Homo sapiens: one gene and its partners. Changing the gene in region 1 together with any one later gene gives a genetic interaction. Each region holds a gene or a part of one and is shown on either strand. Other genes may lie near its edges.

What was found. A genetic interaction does not mean that the proteins touch.
Region 2: changes in ANXA3 (region 1) and ITGB7 together harm fitness more than expected from each alone (negative genetic interaction), as found in Homo sapiens cells (one study listed by BioGRID).
Region 3: changes in ANXA3 (region 1) and FGFR3 together harm fitness more than expected from each alone (negative genetic interaction), as found in Homo sapiens cells (one study listed by BioGRID).

Annotation. Positions count from the first base shown.
Region 1 is NC_000004.12:78,547,395-78,554,782, reverse strand, and holds the start of ANXA3 (annexin A3), read right to left. Parts: upstream 3,014-7,388; 5' UTR 2,924-3,013; intron 348-2,923; 5' UTR 310-347; coding exon 295-309; intron 1-294. UniProt on the Homo sapiens protein: Inhibitor of phospholipase A2, also possesses anti-coagulant properties. Also cleaves the cyclic bond of inositol 1,2-cyclic phosphate to form inositol 1-phosphate.
Region 2 is NC_000012.12:53,190,803-53,197,254, forward strand, and holds the end of ITGB7 (integrin beta-7 isoform a precursor), read right to left. Parts: intron 6,019-6,452; coding exon 5,777-6,018; intron 5,398-5,776; coding exon 5,239-5,397; intron 4,920-5,238; coding exon 4,824-4,919; intron 4,662-4,823; coding exon 4,572-4,661; intron 4,341-4,571; exon of another isoform or gene 3,543-4,340; coding exon 3,396-3,542; exon of another isoform or gene 3,100-3,395; coding exon 2,906-3,099; exon of another isoform or gene 2,562-2,905; coding exon 2,338-2,561; exon of another isoform or gene 2,109-2,337; coding exon 1,889-2,108; exon of another isoform or gene 1,737-1,888; coding exon 1,528-1,736; exon of another isoform or gene 1,218-1,527; coding exon 1,057-1,217; exon of another isoform or gene 930-1,056; coding exon of another isoform or gene 897-929; exon of another isoform or gene 835-896; coding exon 754-834; 3' UTR 521-753; downstream 1-520. UniProt on the Homo sapiens protein: Integrin ITGA4/ITGB7 (alpha-4/beta-7) (Peyer patches-specific homing receptor LPAM-1) is an adhesion molecule that mediates lymphocyte migration and homing to gut-associated lymphoid tissue (GALT).
Region 3 is NC_000004.12:1,796,290-1,803,312, reverse strand, and holds part of FGFR3 (fibroblast growth factor receptor 3 isoform 1 precursor), read right to left. Parts: intron 4,060-7,023; coding exon 3,790-4,059; intron 3,567-3,789; coding exon 3,501-3,566; intron 1,947-3,500; coding exon 1,777-1,946; intron 1,694-1,776; coding exon 1,570-1,693; intron 1,479-1,569; coding exon 1,288-1,478; intron 400-1,287; coding exon of another isoform or gene 249-399; intron 1-248.

The DNA.
Region 1 (7,388 bases):
TTCTCTGATATGTCATCTTTTTCATATAATAAATTCCCAAATTATATACTAAATTTATTATCTGATTTTGACCTTTCCGCCTTGGTGTCATCATAAGTTATTTTAACTATGTAACTTTACAATGCATTTTTAAAAATATTTTATTATTTTTGACATCCTCTGGCTTTTCTAGCATGTTAATTTTGCCAGATAAACTTAAAAACTTTCCTAAAATTTTCCTTGCTATCTTGACCTTCTGTGTTTTGGTTTGACTCATATATGTTACTGTGTTGTGAAGGCTTAATTTTTACTTACCCAGATAGATGCCATGATATCCCACCTTTGCCTTGAGCTGAGATCACACTAATCTATTAAAAGAAAACAATTAGTAAATGGTATCAATATGTGATTCAGAACACAATAATCTTAGTCCAACCCTTAATCTTGAATCCAGAAAACAGATGTCAACATTCACAGAAAAACCTTCTCAGGAAGAGCATATATCTGACATTGGGTATCCCATTTGCTAAACAAACATTTACTGAGCATCTACCATATGCAAGGGACTGTGCTAGACCTGTGAGGACTTCAAGACAAGAGACAGAAAAAAATCTTTGTACTTAAGATGCTTACAAATATACTTCCTGAAAAGCCAATTTTTGACTTATTTAAAGTCCAGGAGAACTCTGCTGATTACTGACAGGCTACCACTACGGGGATCAATAACAACAAAAACACAGGATTTTACTCCTCCTCACCAAATCAACACAAAGTTTAGCTGCCTTCAGTTGGATTCCTTGTGCTTGATTGTGAAACTCCATGTACATTTTACAAGGCTCCAAGCCTACAGTCTGTTATAAAGACACATCTGCTCTTTGAGGAGGTGGTCCAGTCCTTGGTGGGGTGCAGAGGTGAAAGGCACAGTTCTTTGATTGGGAAGCCAGACACATTTTTCTTAAATAGATATTATTCAAACATGCTGGCATATCTCCAGGGTTGATTTAGAAATGCAAGTTGCTCCCACCCTTCCTGGGAACAAAATATTCTAAAAATTCCCTGACACCCCCAGAGAAAAGTTCAATGGGAAATTACACTATTAGTCTCTGGAAATATTTCACCTTGGTTTTTTCAGGCTCTCTGTAGCCTAGGGCAGTCAACTCTCCAGTTAGAGTCTAATACTGCATCTCTCTAAATACATGCTCTTTGACTTATGAGGGGTTACAGCCAGATAAACTATTCTGAAGTCTAAAAATCAGAAGTCAAACCATCTGTACAGTGAAAACAAGGCATTATTGGTTCTCATTTTGCCTCTTAAAGCTAAACACAATTTCTTTGGGCCTCAATTTCCTCATCTGTAAAAAGTGAAGAAGGGGGTGTTGCCAGCATTGAACGAGGTCAGTTTCACAGGGCTGGAGATTCTTCTTATCTGTGTGCACTGGTGCACGGTAGATATTTAAAAAAAAAACTTATTGATTAAATGAATGATTTAATACAAGCCGCACAATCATCCAGTGAGTTAGGTATTACATCTTCGTTTTGCATATGAAGAAGCTGGAGCCCAGAGAGGTATGGTAATGTCCCACAGTCACACAGCTAGTGAGTGGACCCCTACTGCATCTAGGCAGCTAGACTCTAAAGGTATGAACCTAACCCCCATGCTTCTGCCTTAATCTGCTGCCTGGCCCACACCTGACCAAATCTGACACTTAATATGCATTGATCCAGCAGAACTGGAAAATTATTAAGAATTATTACTAATCTATCATTTAACTTTTAAGATGTAAAGAATTACTCCACAGCGAAGGCCAAATGACTTAAACAGAATTTCAATATATCCTTTCCTGAAAGGGATTACATCATTTCCTTTTACTTCCTCCTCTACGGTTATTTCTAAACAGGTTTCTCTACACAACCACAGAGTTCTGGGAACAAGATTCTGGTTTTCTTTACATTTAAAAATTCCCTTTCTGGTCAGTCTGAAGTTTTCCGTCTTCGTGAAAACCAAAGGTGGTATCTTCATGGAGTAACGTTTTAATTAGTTACATTTTAAAAAATGATGTTGGTGAACATAGTAAATGTATCTTTCCCGGAGGGCAGGGTCTTGCTGTCAGTGCTGAACACAAATCCTTGGAAAGAATTCGGCCTGGGCTATGCAATTTCGTATCAGTAGCCAGAGGGGCCTCCAGCGACCCAGAACCTCCCAGCACCTGCATACTTTCCTATATATGGTCATCTGCAATCAAGTATCCAAATCTTCCACCTGGTGACTCAAATACCAAGGGAATGATTCATATCTAGTCAATAGGATTCTGTTGCAAAGAAAACGGTTAGTCTTTTCAGGAAAAAGCAAACTTCTTGAACTTCCAACCCTCAATATGCAAATCCACTGTTTTCTACCTTCTAAAAAAAATAAGTAAAATAAAATAAATTGCCTATGTGAGGGGGAGAAGATGCTCACAGGATGGGTGCGATTCCAAGTCCACAGAGCAGACCTCTGAGCCAGCCCCGTCTGCCATGCCGGGGACCCGAGGAACCTTCCGACTCCCAGCTTTTTTCTGTCCCCTAGACCTTTAGGACTGGGGAGGCCGAGATGGCTAAGTGGATCCCTTACGCTGCTAGCTGTAATAAGCGAAGCTTTCAGGGAGCGAGGACAGCTGAGTATCAGCTTGGGCCCCACCAAGACCTGGGTGACCCACCCATGGCACGGCACTTTCCCCCCCGTGGGCCCAGTCTCCTCGACTCTGAAATGCAGGACTGAGGTCCCTCCAGCTCCCCACCCACGCAGCTGGGTTGGGGCCGGGCGCGGGCGCCAGCCGCCAGCCCTGCCCAGGGTCGAGCTGCACTCGCGGGGGAACTGGGCGAGGCGCCGCGACCTCCCCAAGCCACCCGTCAGCAGGCGGCTGTGGGCGAGGCTCGCGGGGACGCGCCGGGAGGCTGAACTTACCCAAAGCGCGGTGGGGGAAACTGGTGTGCGAGTAAACTGCGAACAAACTGCGAGCGAAGGTGTCAGCCGCGGGCGCAGGTGCTCCGCGCTGGCTCCGGGTCCGGATCGCGACCGCACCCCTTCCTCCTGCCCCTCCTCCGGCCTCTCGACTCCACCTGATTGCGGCCCCAGGCCCCGGGAAAGGGAAGCCGCGCCCTGCTGCCGCCGGGCTCTATCCCTGTACACAGGCGCCCCAGCTCTGCTCCCTCACCGGTCTCTAAGCTTCCCCACCCTTTTCTCCCTACGCCCTCATTTCGCTCTCGGTTTCCACTACACCTTTACTTTCTCAAATGTACTGCAATGCTTATTTTGTTCTAGGCAGTGTGGATTCGGAGATTAGACTGTCCCTATACCTAAGGAACTCACTGCGTGGCATAGGTGGCGGACACCTAACATTAATAACATTGATCTGGCATTTACTTTGTACCAGGCACTGTTCTAACTTCTTTAAGAATATGCGCGGATTTATTAGGTTGGTGCAAAAGTAATTGCGGTTTTTGCCATTAAAATGGCTCCGACAACAACTCTATGAGGTAGATACTATTATCCCCATTTTATAGATGAGGAAATTGAGATACAGAGACGTTGGGTAACTTCAGCCAATTTACACAGAAGGTAAATGCCAGAGCTAGTGTTTGGAACCCAACTATTTCAGTAATTCCTCTACTAAACGTGTTGACCCTCTGGTATGAGGATTCCAACCAAAGGCTCAGGGAGACGGTAACCTGGAAGGGCATTCTAGGCATTTGGAAGAGCAAAACAAATCATCGAGGCTAAAAGGTTAAAGCCCTACTCGTATGAGGGAATTATGAGCAGTTGTGTGCTGAAGGATGTAGAAAAAGTTACCATGTATTGAGTATCAGGCATTGAAGTGCTTGAATACCTTACCTCTTTTATCTTCAAGGGAACTCTAGGAGGTGCTATTTTTATCACAATTTGCAGAAGAGAAAACTGAGGCTTAGAAAAGTGAAGTGATTTATCCGAGACCACGTAAGTAAAAAGTATTGCTTGCACTCAGTCATCACTGGGCCCCTTATGTATTCACCCGAAGGATTTGAAAACTTACCTCCACAAACACCTGCACATGGATGTTTATAGTAGCTTTACTCCTAAGTATCAAAAGTCGGAAGCAACCAAGATGTAATTCGTAGGTGAATGGATAAATAAACTGTGATACATCTATACAATAGAATTTTATTCAGCACTGAAAAGAAATTAGCTATCAAGCTATAAAAACACATGGAAGAAACTTAAATGCATATTATTAAGAGAAAGAAGCCCATTTGAAAATGCTACACACTATGATTCCAACTATATGACATTCCAGAAAAGGCAACACTACGGAGACAGTAAAAAAAATCACTGGTTTCTAGGAGTTGAGAGGAGGTAGGGTGAACAGGTGGAGCACAGAGGATTTTTAGAGGATAAGCATGGCTGGAGCTGCTTGAGTGTGAGTTGAAGAGATTACAGTCTTGGTCCTTAAGGCTGAGTCCTGGGACCTAGAAACTCATTAGAAATGCAAATTCCCTGAAACCCTGCGCCATCAAGTGATTCTGATGCATCCTAAAGTTTGAGAACCACTGGTTTAAGAGGAGCTACAACGGAGAAGGCAGAAGTGGTCATGCTTAAAAGGCCAGTGCCCTGGGAGCCCTCTCAGATCTACAAATCCGAAGTGATGGGCTTTCTGCAAGAGAGAAGATAGGATGGTGTTCTGCATTCTGTTCTGCATAGTAATTCCTGACTCCCATTCAGACTTCACCACAATAAACTGTTAAATCCCATGTTACCTCAAAAAATTCTGAGATTAGCATGAAATGGGGGAAAATATTTATTATTATTTGTGCCAGACACTGGGTAATGCACTTGACGTACGTGATCTATGTCATGCTTACCAACTAGCTGTAAATTAGGTATGATTGCCTCTATTTTGCAGATACAGACACAGGCTCAGAGGGACTCAGTAAGTTCTACGAGTTGTATTCCAGGCAACTAGGAAGTCATAGGGCTAGATTTATAGCCAGAAGAAAATGAGTAACAGGTGATGTTTTACATGTAGGCTTTATTTTAATTGTTTAAACCATTCAGGATTTAACTTCTTTGATTTCCTGATGGTAACTTTAACAAATGCACTTTTATCATTTTTTGAGTTTTTCTAGTTGTATCAACAGCCCAATTACCACCATTTATATTAGAAACATGCTATGGCATATTATAAAACTATTTTTTCCCCAAAGGATGAGTTTTCTTGGAAGGAAATATTAGAGGATGCTGTTAGAATCCAGGTTTATGGTTATCCAGAAAAAGAATTCAGAAAAGGTTATTTAATAAAAGTTTCATTATTCTGAATACACAGAACTTTACAGGTTAGTAAAAAGGGAATTTTCCTATAGCATCCTGATCAAAAGAACAATTTAACAGCCAAATACAAATTTTTAAAGCAAAGTTATTGAGATATATTTAGAACATATGGTAAAATGTGAAGGAAAGACCGACTACGTGATTGTGGCTGTTGAATACATAGCTGCTGTTACAGTGATGTGTTGGAGCTGGGTTATACCAGCATGTGAAAGCCAGTTCCTGAATTTTCAGTTATTTCACAGCCAGTATTAATGTAGACATTATTACAAGTTAAATAAATACAATTGAATAAATTACGTTAAAAGCAAAGGTAATAGGTACTCAAAATTAACCACTTCCTAATTATTTCACATTTTATTATTATTTTTTTTATTATTTATTTATTTATTTATTTATTTATTTATTTATTTTTTAATTGATCATTCTTGGGTGTTTCTCGCAGAGGGGGATTTGGCAGGGTCACAGGACAATAGTGGAGGGAAGGTCAGCAGATAAACAAGTGAACAAAGGTCTCTGGTTTTCCTAGGCAGAGGACCCTGCGGCCTTCCGCAGTGTTTGTGTCCCTGGGTACTTGAGATTAGGGAGTGGTGATGACTCTTAAGGAGCATGCTGCCTTCAAGCCTCTGTTTAACAAAGCACATCTTGCACCGCCCTTAATCCATTCAAACCTGAGTGGACACAGCACATGTTTCAGAGAGCACAGGGTTGGGGGTAAGGTCACAGATCAACAGGATCCCAAGACAGAAGAATTTTTCTTAGTACAGAACAAAATGAAAAGTCTCCCATGTCTACTTCTTTCCACACAGACACGGCAACCATCCGATTTCTCAATCCTTTCCCCACCTTTCCCCCCTTTCTATTCCACAAAACCGCCATTGTCATCATGGCCCGTTCTCAATGAGCTGTTGGGTACACCTCCCAGACAGGGTGGTGGCTGGGCAGAGGGGCTCCTCACTTCCCAGTAAGGGCAGCCGGGCAGAGGCGCCCCTCACCTCCCTGACGGGGCGGCTGGCCGGGCAGGGGGCTGACCCCCCCACCTCCCTCCCAGATGGGGCGGCTGGCCGGGCAGAGGGGCTCCTCACTTCCCAGTAGGGGCGGCCGGGCAGAGGCACCCCTCACCTCCCGGACGGGGCGGCTGGCCGGGCGGGGGGCTGACCCCCCACCTCCCTCCCAGACAAGGCGGCTGGCCGGGTGGGGGGCTAACCCCCACCTCCCTCCGGGACGGGGTGGCTGGCCTGGTGGGGGCTGACCCCCCACCTCCCTCCCGGACGGGGTGGCTGCCGGGCGGAGACGCTCCTCACTTCCCAGACGGGGTGGCTGCCGGGCAGAGGGGGTCCTCACTTCTCAGACAGGGCGGCTGCCGGGCGGAGGGGCTCCTCACTGCTCAGACGGGGCGGTTGCCAGGCAGAGGGTCTCCTCACTTCTCAGACGGGGCGGCCGGGCAAAGACGCTCCTCACATCCCAAACGGGGCGGCAGGGCAGAGGCGCTCCCCACATCTCAGACCATGGGCTGCCGGGCAGAGACGCTCCTCACTTCCTAGACGGGATGGCGGCCCGGAAGAGGCGCTCCTCACTTCCTAGATGGGATGGCGGCCGGGCAGAGACGCTCCTCACTTTCCAGACTGGGCAGCCAGGCAGAGGGGCTCCTCACATCCCAGACGATGGGCGGCCAGGCAGAGACGCTCCTCACTTCCCAGACGGGGTGGCGGCCGGGCAGAGGCTGTAATCTCGGCACTTTGGGAGGCCAAGGCAGGCGGCTGGGAGGTGGAGGTTGTAGCGAGCCGAGATCACGCCACTGCACTCCAGCCTGGGCACCATTGAGCACTGAGTGAACCAGACACCGTCTGCAATCCCCGCACCTCGGGAGGCCGAGGCTGGCGGATCACTTGCGGTTAGGAGCTGGAGACTAGCCCGGCCAACACAGCGAAACCCCGTCTCCACCAAAAAAATACGAAAACTAGTCAGGCGTGGTGGCGCGCGCCTGCAATCGCAGGCACTCGGCAGGCTGAGGCAGGAGAATCAGGCAGGGAGGTTGCAGTGAGCCGAGATGGTAGCAGTACAGTCCAGC
Region 2 (6,452 bases), on another chromosome or scaffold:
GTGTATGTTCCTTCGTGATATATTTAGGATATTTAAATAAAAGGAAAATGGGGCTTTTCTACATACTATCTCCTCTTTGGGGAAGCTTTTTCATACTGGTTTTAGTTGTTTTCCTTTTTTCTCCCTACATAATCACCCCACAACTTCCAGCACCCTATAAGCCATTTTAAAACCCCTTCTCCACAGAGGAACAAGCAAGTAGGAGCAAAAACAGGGCATCAGTTCTGAGCAAGACGAAAAAGCACACGCAGCAGGACGGAAGGAGGCTAGACACCAACAGATGCAGTGTCTCTGACCTGGGACCCCCCTGCATCCGCAGCACTTGAGAATTCATAGGCCCTTTCCAGACCTGGCTTCCTGGGTCCCAGGGTGCACCCCGGGAGTTTCCTGCACATTCGCGCTTGGGCACCTCTCCCTGCCCTCAGGTGGCAAGAGGAGGATGGACAAGAGCTTTCCCGAGGCCCAGGCTATAAACAGTCTGCTTTGGCCTTGATGAGGTAAAGCAAAGTGACAGCTGTGGTCTGAGGTAAGACTTTATTGTATACTTGGGTGGGGTAGCCCAGATGGATGCAAGGTTGCAGGCATGGGAAGCAGCCCTCTTGGGTGTCACTCTGAAAATGAAGTAGGGTGGTGGCCGCACCTCGCCAGTGAATTAGTCCCCTACCAAGGTCTTACAGACCCACCCTTCCTCTCACCCTCCAGTTCCCACTGTCCTCCAAGGAGAAGAGCCTTGGGTAAGTGTCCCTCCCTCCTTCAGAGAGTGGGACTGTCTGCCTCTTGAAAGCGAGGATTGATGGTGGTCGTGATGGCACTTTTGTAGAGAGGATTACTGTCCTGGAGAAAGATGTTGCAGATTATAAGCAAAAATCCCAGGATTCCTCGTCCCCTTTCTAGACCTAAGAGGCCAGCCTTGAGCCGAATCCTAGGAGCTGATGGAAGTTAGCAGAGGGGTTGGTTACATGTGCCAGGGGCTGGGGGAACCCAGTGGGAGGAATCAGGGCTGGTCTTGTGGTGGGGGAACAGCTAAAAAGGGGCCTAACCAGGAAGTCTCCTCACCTGCTTCCAGTTGAGTTGTTGCTGCTCCTTCTCAAAGCGACTGTATTCCCGGCGGTCATAGATTTCCACCGAGAGCCGGTAAGCCAGGACCAGCCCCAGCCCCACTGCCACGATGCCCCCTACGCAGCCCAGCACAATGGCCTGCGTGTGGTCTGCTCCCTCTGTGAACAAGAAACCAGACACACTTGTGGGAGCTGGAGCATAGGGACAGATCATCAGTTGCTCACAGTGTGTCCAGCCTGTCCAACCCTGTCTGTCACTGAAAGCAAAGGGAACCCAGGGAGGTCCAAGGTTATCCTCACCGCCCAGGGCCTTAGCCTCGTCCACTTGCTCAATTGCCTCTGCCTTTGTCCTGGATTCACAGTTCTGCTTCAGCCCCCAGCCTGTTTCCCATTATCTTCACTCTGCATCCCCAGAGTTGAGACCCTGCCCATCAAACTTCCAGGGTTTGTGGCATCCCTGCCCACTTACTTTCTTGGGGTCTCACTCTGAGCACGACCGTGCCTCTGGCGTCATCCTCCACCAAGAAGAAGAACAGCTGGTTGTCCAGGGTCCGCTCTTTGCACCAGCCATCATCCAAGATAGGGGCCAAGGCCAGGGTCACATTGGTATGGGCACAAGCTGTACTGCAGTTGGTGGCCAGTGGGCCAGTCCTGAAGGCCCCACACTCTGCACAGTCCCTGTGTAGTAGATGCCAATAGGTTACCAGCTGGGCAGTTGTCACCCAATGCCCCTTGCCCAACTACAAGCAGGACGGAGAGTAGGCAGATGGGAGTAGCTCAACAAGCCCCACTGTGCCCCTGCTCCCAAGATGCAAGACCTGAGGCCTCACCGGTGTCTCTCGCATGGTGTCTTGCAGCCTGGGCATTGGTCGCATAGAGCACCATAGTAGCCGTCCAAGCACTGGCAGCGGTTGCATTTGCAGCGTCCATGCCCACTGCAGAGCCCTCCCTCGGGACTGATGCAACTGTCCATGTCCCCACTGCATTCGCATGCTCTGCCCGTGCGGTTGGCATGACAGTGACATACTCCACATTGGCAGCGACCAAAGCCTGGGGTAGAGCCATGCAGAGGGTGACAACCATACTCCACACACACAGTTGGCCATCATGTGGCACGACAAGCCCACGCATCCAATCTTTTTGAAGTATGCCAACCACACCCTCTAACCCATACACCGGAATCTTTTGATATTTGCCTTCCATGCCAGGAGATTCCCAGAGCCTAAGTGCCTTGGGAAGGCCTCTCAGACCCCGCCCTTCTCCCCAAGGCTCCAGGTACCTCCGCAGAGGATGCCCTCATGTCGCTCACAGCTGGCATCGTCACACTCGCACAGATGCCCAGAGCTCTGTCCACTGCAGCTGCAGCGTCCACATTGACAGTGACCCTTTCCACTGCACAGGGGCCCTGTGCCATTGGGAGCCCGGCACCCAGATTCCAGGTCTGGGGAGGACAGCTCTGCCACAGAGCACTCACAGAGCCGACCTAGGCGGCCAGGGGCACAGCTGGAAGGGGAAGGCAAAGGAGAGAAGTAGGTCAGAGGGTTTGATCACCCCTGACTTGTCTCTCCCAGGAACCTCTAAACCCAAGTTCTCAAAAGAGTTGGAGACAGACAAACAGCTGAAAGGATGTTAAGTATAGTGAAACACTGAGGGGTGAGAGAGTGGAGGGAGCCCCAGTCAGGGGGAGGGCCTGGACATACATGGGAAGCTTCAAGGGATGAAACTGAGTGGGGAGTCGGGATGTCGAGGAGACTCCTGTGGGGGGGATGGAAAGCAGCGGAGGAATACGGGCCAGGGTTGGTTGGTTGTTGGGAGCCAGGTGGTTGAAGGGAAGAGGAGGCCCTCACCTGCATACACCACATTGTAGGTGTCCCTGGCCATCACTGCAGTGGGGAGCCTGGGGCTGGGTGTCACTGCAATTACAGTCACACAGCGTGTGCAACTCCACAATCAGCTCCTCTGAGAAGCCAAGGGCCCGGAGCCTCAGGAGATGGGGCTCTGGGAGGCAGTGGGTGGCTTGGAGAGAAACCCAGAAAGTCACCTGAGAAGAGGCAGGAATCAGGCCATGGTTATACACATGCACACACACATACCCCAAACTCACCAATCATCCAGAACCTCACCCCTTAGTAAATGAAGGGATGGGGTCATGTTAACACCCAACTCCTAGAAACATGCCTGAGGAAGCCACTCAGACTGCTCCAGGAAGGATGGATGGAGGACTACCTCAGGCTCTCATGTCACTCCCTGTACCTGCCACCCATCTTTTCCTGCCTGCTTAATTTCCCACTCCCACCTCCCCCTGCCCGCCTTCTGCCTGTGCTTGCTGGCTCTCACCGTCTGGTTGATTCGGACGTGGTTGCACTGTCCTCGATCCTCAGCCTTACCCTCCCTCTTCTCAGGACCCTCACACTGGGATTCGTAAGAAATGTGGACCCCAGGAGGGAGTGAAGAGTGTTCAAGGGTCACGGTGGAAGACAGGCTCTATGGGAAGAGAGCGAGTGGATAACCACGTGAAGGCAGAAAAGGACTCCAACCCCACCTTATGTCCTCTCCAGGTGTTCCCAATTCTGCCAGCACCCTGCCCTCTGCCACCTGGGGCTCCTTCCATTCTGCCCAGTCGAGGCATTTCTGGAGGGAGGACCCGTGAGAACCTTGCATAGAACATACAGGATCCAGAGGCCTCTAATACAGCATTTCAGTGCAGCTGCCAGCAAGGGCCACTGAGGGTCACAGGCTGGCCAGGTGCTGTAAATGTACAGAGACCATGTTTGTGAAGCCCCACATCAGGACACATAACCTGGGTGCATGCCAGGTCTAAAGGGCAGATTCATTACAGAGTTTATCTTGGGAAATTTGATACTGTCTCAGATTTTCTTGCCATAGGTTTAGGAGATGCTCCCTGTTATCAAGAAGCCTACAGCCTAGTTGCAGAGGTAAGACCTAAACCACTAAGAATTTTTATGGTTCCTTCTACCTGTAAAATTCTATGGTTCTTGTGAAGAATAGCTCTGAATTATTTATAAACTTAGTGAAAGCAGGCTCCAGATCTCACATTGTTTATGTACAGACTGACTGGGGACAAATGCCAGCCCTTCTGTTTGTTATCTTTGTGACCTTGGACAAGTCACTTAGCCTCCTTGTGTGGGTTTCCTCATCTGTAAAATAGGGATGGTAACAGTTATGAAGCAAGGCTTTTGGCAGGGTTAAATGAAGTAGCAAACAGTATGTACACCTAGGATGGTGGGCGCATGAAATAAAAGCTCAGTGATTGAAACTTTCCTTTCTTGCCCAGAGCAGAGCTCCATGCTGTCTGCATGTCAGATGTTTTAAGATTTATGAATGTAAGATTGAACAGTTAATGACAGCCACATGCAGACTATAGGTAGGAGCTGTGGAATGTTAGACCAAAAAGTGACCATTTCCTCTTAGTTCTGCCACCCCACCCAAGGGCCCCTTTCCACCTTTCCCTAGTGCCCACCCTCACCATCTCCCCTTCCCCTGGCCCCTCACATTATAAGCATCCATGATGAGCTGTACCACGTTGCTGGAGTCCTCACTCAGCTCCCCAACTGCAGACTTAGGAATCAGTTTACTCAGCTCCTGAGTTTTGGGGAGTTAAGGGAAATGGTGGGTCACAGCTCTAGGAAAATGGGCTCCCGGAGGTCTGGAAGGAGGGCATATGGGGGACGGAGAATGTATCTTTGGGGGAATTGAGAAAGGTTGGGATGGGGCTGGGGGATCTGACATGTAGACAGCTCTCACCTGGTAGACAGGCAGTGCGGCACTGGTGACAGCAAAGATGGGCTGGATATTTGCTGCAGAGAGGGCCTGGGCTACCTGACCCACAGAAGGGTAGTCCTGGGACAGGGAGCAGGGACAAGGTGAGCCCCACAGGTTTCCCCCACAACATGCAAGGTGCCCTCAGCCCAGGGAATCCAGGAACCAAGGTTCCACCAGCTGGAGGAGCCCTGGAGGCTTGCTATGGAATAGGAAGGAGGTAGGGAATGGGGTGACAAAGGTGTCCTGTCTCGGCAGCTGAAAGGAGGAACTGCTGGAGAAGATGGCAGGGTGTCTACAGGGTGGTTACTGGTGAGGACTGTAAGGCTGGGAGTGGGAGTCCTGGAAGGAAAGAGGTGTGGCTGAAATGGGGAGAGGCAGGGTGACAATAGGGACTCACAAACTCTGTGCTGCGACTGTAGAGGCCATTGCTGTCCAAGTGGCAGTGCCCATCACTGGGCATGAAAATGCCGCCCAACTTCCCGTCCCCAGCTGTATGGAATGTGTCGTCTGAAGTGAACACCAGCAGCCGGGACACATTTCTCCAGCCAATCTGCTCCTGAGTTACAGTGGGGGTGGTAGGCTATGCACCTGGGCATGGCCCTTGAGCCACCCCAGCCAGCTCTGTGAGCCAAGAATGTGGCCAGCCTCACTCTGAGTCAGCTTGTCCATCCCCTTGCCTCCAGTACCTTGCTTCTCCCTGCTCTCTCCAGCCCCCTAAAGAAGGCTGCTGCTAGTGGAGGCTTACTTGTGAATTCGAAAAACATGCCTCCTCCTCAAGATATTTTACTCCAACCCACCAGGTAATTGCTAAATATACAAACTACAGCAACTATGGTATGAATGGCACCCCCTAGAACTGTGCACTACACAACCATAAGGGGCAGTCCTGTTCCCAAACAGACCTCCAGGCTCAGATCCCCGCCCCACCTCCTCACCTGGCAGAGTGCAGCCTGCAGAATGGCATCGAAGCCACCTTCAGGCGAGTCCAGATTGCCGGACACACTCTGGCGCCCCACCTCCCGCTCGAAGGCTTGTGCGTCCCCCGTCAGGGACAGCACATGGTGAAAGCTGAATGGTGACTGGCAGCGCTCCAGCCGGGTGGGGCAGGGGTGGCGCAGTTTGGAGGGTACTGTGCTCACAAAGGGCAGCACCGTTTTGTCCACAAAGGAACCAAAACCTGGGAGAGGAGAGGAATGAAGGTTGTGCCAGAAGTCGCAGGGCAGCAACAGAGGACCCATGAGAGCGCTCTATGGGAAGTGGGGTGGGGAGGACGGTGATGGGAGAGGGTGCACCTAGGGGGCAGGGACCTGGTAACTGGCAAGCAAAGCAGTGAGACCACTGGCTCAGGGAAGTGGCAGGTAGAAGACATTAAGAGGAGGACACAACTTCCTGGGCAAATGGGAACTTCCAGAAGGCGGAAGAAGGCCCGGGTATAGGATATGGTAGCAGCATGAGGCAAAGGAAGGAAATTTGAATAGAGGAGAGTTGGCACAGAATGTGGAGCCAGGGACAGTGGCATCTAGGTCTTGTCCAGGGAGACTTGCATCAGGGCAGGTTCCAGGTTGGTAGGCCCAGGGCAGCTGTCCAGGCCCAGAGAGTGCCTGAGCACAG
Region 3 (7,023 bases), about 77 Mb from region 1:
GGCCCGGTGGGCACCGGGCACCTCCTGTGGGGGTCGCAGGCGTGCGGGAAGGGTCGGCGCAGGCCACAGGGCTCGAAGCGGGCGGTCACCGTGGAGGCTGGAGCTGCCAGCCTTGCCGAGGCGGCCCCGAGTGGAGCGCGAGCCGGGGCGGGAGCGAGCAGGGCTGGGCGTGCGGGGCGTGCAGGGCGCGCGGCCAGGGCCTTGGAGCTGGAGCTCTTGTGCCGGCCGGCATGGGACAGAGTCGTTACCTGCTCGGGGCCCGTGAACGCTCAGCCAAAAGGCCTTCTCGGCCACGCCTATGAAATTGGTGGCTCGACAGAGGTACTCGCCCCCGTCCCGCTCCGACACATTGGCCAGGCGGAGGCGCACGTCGGCCTCCACACTCTCACTGATCCAGGACTGCGGGGACAAGAGACCCGGCTCAGGCACGCCCCCGAGGCAGCCCCGCCGGGCACGAGGCAGGATGTGGGAGACCCCCAAGGTACAGATCGAGGCTGGGCTGCGTCAGCCCCAAAGGCTGCCTGGAGGAGGCGTGGAGGCACTTCACGGTGGCTGTGGTTTCACAGGATGCACGTCTCTGCCTCCACCCCAACAACCCAGCCCAGACCCTCAGACAACCTCTGGTCACTGGCCTGCCCTCCCCCGGGCTCTTGCAGAACCTGCACCCTGGACAGGGCCCGAGGCGGCCTCTCTGGGCGGGGTCTGGACTCCACCCTCGCCCTGCGCCTGCTCCCCGCCCCCAAGAGACCGTCTTCTCTCTGAACAGATGTTTCTCTTTGGGCTTTGAGTGTCGCAACCGTCCCAATTCAGTGGCCCCCACCCGGCAGCCATGGGAACAAAGCTAAGGGCTTCAGGAGGCGGGCAGACAGTGAGCTCGGGCCCCACTGCACACAGCTGACGAGAGCCAATCGGCCAGGTCGGGGCTCAGCCACCGCCTCTGAGGCCCAGAGGGGGCCTGGAGGGCTTGGCCACACTGCCCTCCTGTCCTGGGGCACCACTGCTGCCCAAGCCGCACCCACCCCCAAGAAGCCCGTGGGCAGCTCCATGTCAGGGACTTCAGTGGCTGAGGCTGGCCCTCTGCAGACACGGAAACGGGTCCCAACGCAGCTGCCTATGGCCCTGAGGTGTGGGGTGGCTGAGACTTGGCCCCACAAGCACCCCCACAGCTTCTGCCCCCGAAGCTCCAACCCCTAGACCCAAATCCTCACGCAACCCGCAGCCAAGGGGCACCCTTGGGGCCAGCCCAGGAGCCCCAGCGGCGGCACCCACGTGCACACGGTGGCCCACCTTGAGCACGGTAACGTAGGGTGTGCCGTCCGGGCCCACCTTGCTGCCATTCACCTCCACGTGCTTGAGCCACTGGATGTGGGGCTGTGCGTCACTGTACACCTTGCAGTGGAACTCCACGTCGCTGCCCAGCACCGCCGTCTGGTTGGCCGGCAGCCCCGCCTGCAGGATGGGCCGGTGCGGGGAGCGCTCTGTGGGGGCAGATGACGCTCAGGGGCCACCCCCTCCCTCACCACCACCGCCACTGCCGCCCCCACCCCCGCGCCGCCCCAGGGCCCTCACCCAGCACGTCCAGCGTGTACGTCTGCCGGATGCTGCCAAACTTGTTCTCCACGACGCAGGTGTAGTTGCCGCGGTCCGAGGGCACCACGCTTTCCATGACCAGGCTCCACTGCTGATGCCGCAGCTGCACCGGGACGCGGGCGGGTGAGTGAGCGGAGGCAGCAACCACCGCGCCTGCCAGGCCCAGAGCCACCCCGCCGCGCCCACCTTGATGCCTCCAATGCGGTGCTCGCCGCGGAACTCCCTGCCGTTCTTCAGCCAGGAGATGGAGGGAGTGGGGTTGCCAGCGGCTGGGCAGCGGAAGCGGACGGTGTTGGCGGCCGGCACGGCCAGCAGCTTCTTGTCCATCCGCTCGGGCCGTGTCCAGTAAGGGGCCCCTGCGGGCCGAGGTGCGTGTGAAGGCCATGACCCGAGTGGGAGCAGAGGCCCCTCTGAACAACCCCCTTCCCAGAGCTGCCCCTGCCCATCCCCAGCCTCAGTTTCCCGTCCTGTGTAGGAAGAGGGCGGGATGAGGTTCCCAGGAGCCTCCACATCTTGTCCCCTCCCCGGGGCTTTCTCAGAGCTGGGCCGTGTGTCCCCTCCCCTCCCCTCCAGGGTGCTCTGCCCGGACCTGTGAAGTCACAGGGCACAGGGCATTGTCCAGGGGAGCCCACCTGCCCAGAGAGGCGTGCCAGGGCCAGGCCCACCAACGGGGAGACTGAAGACCCAGGGGGCAGGCCCATCTAGTGGACAAGCCAGGACCTGGGAGCAGTTTACCAGGAGAGGAGCCCAGTCGCCTGCAGAGCCAGGAGCCTTGGAGGCAGCTGGGCAGCATGGGCCCACGGAAATCAAGACCCTACACCACCCTCTGCAGAGCTCCAAGTCTGGCGGGCACCCAGAGACGGTGGCACCCTGGAGGCCCTGCCTCCTCCCATCTCGATGTCCAGGGCTCCCACCACCCCTCTCACAGCCCAACTGGTTTTTCTCCTTCCTCAGGGCTGGTGCTGCCTTCCTGCCGGGACTCCAGGCAAGGATGGGCTGGCATTCCCCAGGAGGGAAGCAGCCCTCCCCTCAGTGAGCTCACTGCCAGCCCCCTCCAGGCACACGCCCATCAGGGGCACTGAGGCCCAGCAAGCAGCAGTGTGGACACAGGCTGGAAAGAGGCACCCCACGGTGCTGAGCTCCCTCCCAGGCCTCCTGGAGACCCCCAGGGTGAGTTCCCCCAGCTGTTTCTCTCATGGACTCAGCCTCCCTTCCTCACCTGCTTACCCCACTGGCCCAGGGACCCAGCGCACACACCATCAGTCCGCAAGTCGTAACTGCCCCCCATGTCTGTGCCACGATGACCCTCACCTGCACGCACTCCCCTCAGAGCTCCCTCCAAAACCAGAAGCCCCACCTCCCCACCCTACAACTTGGCAAAGTCCACCTGCCACCGTTCCAGGCCGGGACGCCAGGCATCGTCCCCGACTGCTCTCTCACAGCCGCAGCCCACCCACCAGCCACCCTCCTGCCAGCCACCCTGCCCGCCACTGGTTGTGGCAGGTGCCCCGGCGCCCTCACCCCGGGTCCATCCACCCCACGGCAGCCACCTGAGTGCCCTGCCCTGCTGCGCTAATGTCTGCGGGGTCCACCTCACCTATAGCCAACACCAGAGCCCCACAGGCCAGCCCTGGCCTCCTCCTGCTCCTGGAACCCCCAGGGCCCTGTGCCTCAGTCTCCCCATCAGCAACACGGTGTCCCCTTGCACCCCAGCCCTGCCACCAGGGTGGGGCATCTAGAGCCATGTCAGTGACCCAGCCCCTCCTGTATCCTGAGGGGACCAGACCTTCGGGGTGACCCCAGGGAGGTTGTTCCGGGGCCTTAGTCCCTCAGCTGCCTGTGAAGGGCAGGGCTTGGCGGTGGCAGCGGGCCCCACCCCGGCTGGCCTGAACCCTGGACCCTGCTCCTACCTGTGTCCACACCTGTGTCCTCAGCCTCGTCCTCCCCGTCTTCGTCATCTCCCGAGGATGGAGCGTCTGCAAGGCAGAGATGGCCGCAACCAATGCCCAACCTGCCCCAGGAGGCCCCCAGGTGCCCCTCCCAGATGGGGCAGGGTCCCCCATTTGGGCAGCACTTCCTGGGGGTGCCCTCCTCTCCACCAATGACCAGAGAGACCCCCAGCCGCTCCTGACCCACGCAGGGACTCAGGGAGCCCGGCACTCGGCTCCTTTCTGTAGCTGGCGTGGCCCCAGAGCTCACCTGTCACCCGCACACTGAAGTGGCACAGTACGCGCTGCGTGAGCCGCTGCCGGCAGCTGTAGGCCCCGGAGTCCTCGTGGGAGGCATTCAGCACCTGCAGCCGCTGGGGCCCCACCAGGACACGCTCCGAGGGCACCAGCCCTGTGCCATCCTTGACCCAGACAGTGGGCCCCATGGGACCACCCCCGGGCGGGGGACAGCTCAGCTCCACAGCATCCCCGCTGCCGAAGACCAACTGCTCCTGCTGGCCGGGCTCTGGGCCCGGGACTTCTGTGGGGAAGATGGGCAACCATGAGGCAGGCACCCCCAAACCCGGCACCGTTTACAGACACAGCAGTGGAAGCCTCGGCGGCCCTGAGTGAGGAAGGCTCTGACCCAGATCCAGGGTCCCACCAGACCAGGGGCTGGAAACTGTGTCCCAAAAGGGCCAAAGGTCTCTATCTTCAGCTTTGCCAACCAGTCTGTCCCAAGGACTCCGGTCTGCCTCGGTGTGACAGCCGCCTTCCCCACACAACCTGCAGCCAACCCCACAGCAGTGGCCCCATGATGCTTCACTCATGGACACGGAGAATTCAAATCTCAAAGTGTCACAAAATGTGACTCTTCGTTCTTTTAATTTGTTCAATTGCTTGGAAACATAAAATCCATGCTTGTCTCACAGGCGGCACCACGACGGGCAGGTGCTGCGGGCAAAGGGGACAGGCTGCCCTTTGCTGGCCTCTGACTGAAATGGAGCTCAGAGGGGGTGCCAGGGTTGGCCAGCCAGCCCCCTCGTGGTGCAGATTCACCCCAGGAGGGGTCCGTCCTCAGTAGCCCCCGCACCCCATATGAGCCTGAAAAGCAGTTCAGATGGACAGCCAGGGAACAGAACAGGCGAGAAGGAAGGAGGTGCAGGGTCACGTGGCCGTGTGGACGGTCTGGGGGGCGATGCGCGGGTTCACCGGTCAGAGCACAGGCCGGAGCAGCGCGAGGGGGCCGGGGCGGGGGTGGGGGCTCCTTGGGGTGGGCAAGGTTCTGTATCCTGCAGCTCCTATGGAAGCTCCACACGGCGGTCATGACGGAAAACATACCGAGAAGAGCAAAGTACAAACACGGCGCTGGGTCCGGCCAAGTGGGTCTCACAGGCCGGGGAGTGGGGAGGCCCAGGCGGGCCCTCAAGGGGGCCGGGGGGTGGAGTCCTGCTGCCTGCAGGGGGACTGGGGCCCCCTCACAGAGGACGACCAGGCTGGGGGCAGGAAGCTGTGAGAGCCAGGGCAGGTCAGCAGCCCTGGCCCCTCCCTGGGGGCTGAGAAGCTGGGGTGGGGGCCCACCCACAGGGGCAGATGTGCAGGTGGCCCCTGGGTCCCTCCCCAGTAGCTGCCCAGCTCCCCAGAGCCACCAAAGCCTGTGACCCAAGGACACACCATGGGCAGGGCTGGGGGGACAATCGCCCCTAGGCTTCCCTGCCAGGGCCAGACAATGCATGCAGGCAGGCGTCCCGGGCTTGGGGCCGGGACGGGGGTGGGTGGTCCCCCAGGCAGCCTCCTTCTTCAGACCCAGCTGGGCGGGTTGCGCCATCACTTGTCATTCTGCAGACGCGTGGCCTAGATTCGGGGGCCCAGCTGCCCACTCTGGCCACACCAGTCCCTGGCTGCCCGGCCAGGCCCTCTTCTGCCCAACCCACCTGATCCAGCCACACACGCCTAGTGCCCAGGGTGACCCTGCCAGCCAGAAGGGCCCACACTCATCCCCTGAAGCATCCGAAGGAGCCCTCGCCCCACCGGGACCCACAGCTCAAGGACTGCCCCTGTAGGGACCCCGCAGTCAGGGGGGCTCCTGGCCTGACCTCCAGCCCTCCGGTCCTGGCCAGTGTCTTGTGGGGACCACCCAGAGCTGGGAGCTGCTCGAGGCCCCCCAGAAGGCCGAGAACAGGCTGGTTATGGCAGCCTCAGCTGCAGGCCCTGGCCCAAGGGCAACAGCCGGTTGGTTCCGGTTTGGTCTGAGTGGCGACAACAGGTCAAGCCATCCACACAAGTATTTGCTTCAGCCTGGTCCAGCACGGGGGGACGGGGGACACAGCAGCCCCAGGCCAGCCACACCAGTGGCCATCTGCCCGTGTGTGGTGGGGAGGGTGCAGCCCTGACTGCCCCCCCCACTGCCTGCCTGCTAGGTGCCAGCAGAGGCCAGGGTACCCCAGCAGGGGCTGGGTGGCGAGCACCAGGTGAAGGACAGTGTGACACGGGGCATGAGTGGGTGCTATAAGTTCAGGGTCTGACTCCCACTGGGAAGTCAGCAGTTGGGTGGAGCCCCCATACCCCACCCAGCTGCCAGGCATGGGGAGAGCTATAGCCCCCCAGCAGCCCTAGGAAGGGTTCTTTCTTTCTTGATCCACAAAAGGGAGGCCCCACTGACACCACACAGACACTGGTGCCCAAACACGTTGGAGACAAAACTCCTGCTGTACCCAAGGCGGGGTAGGAGGCAACGCGTCCCACCTCCCACCCTTCTATGGATCCCACAACACGTGCTCCTGCCGGCGCCCCAACCCCACACAGTGCCGACCTCAACTTGGGCTCCACATGCCAACGACAGCCCTCTGCTGTGTCCCAGAGTCTCCACAACTCTGCCACTCACTGGTCCTGTACCTCAGTTTCCCCCACTGTGGCACAAAGTAAAAATCCCACCCCACAGGCCCAGGAGCTCAGGGAGGGCACCAGGCCCTGAAATGGCTGCAGGAGTGAGGGTAGGGGTGAGAGGCGCTCCCTGCCCTGGGTCTCTGGCCCCAAGACTGATGTCCATTAGGCAGGGTGCTGGGGACGGCCAAACTCTGGCCTGGGGAACCTTTCTCCAGGCTCTGGGTCTCTGCAGTGGAGGCCCAGTGCATGTGAGGGAGCATGGCTGAGAGGATGGGGGAGCCTTGCTCCATCATAAGCCCCTCGGGTTGACCCCAGAGAACAAGGATCAAATCCAGACTCGCTTCCGGAGCTGGCTGCCCCAGGGGTTTATTTGGGTTTTGGGGTGAGATGAGGGCCTGGGGTCAGGAAACAACACATTCTGGTTTCGGATGCACATGAAGTTCTCTGCAGCTCTCTGGGGTACAGGAGGTATTGCCAGGTAGGAGCTATAAAATAGCCTAAGAGGAGGGGGCCCCCAAAAGTCCAGCCTCCCTGTCTCCCCACCTGGAGTTTCACAATAAAGTCCGGAAAAAAGGGATCTGGAGGCTGGGCAGGCTAAAGAGGGCTTGCCAGGGTTATC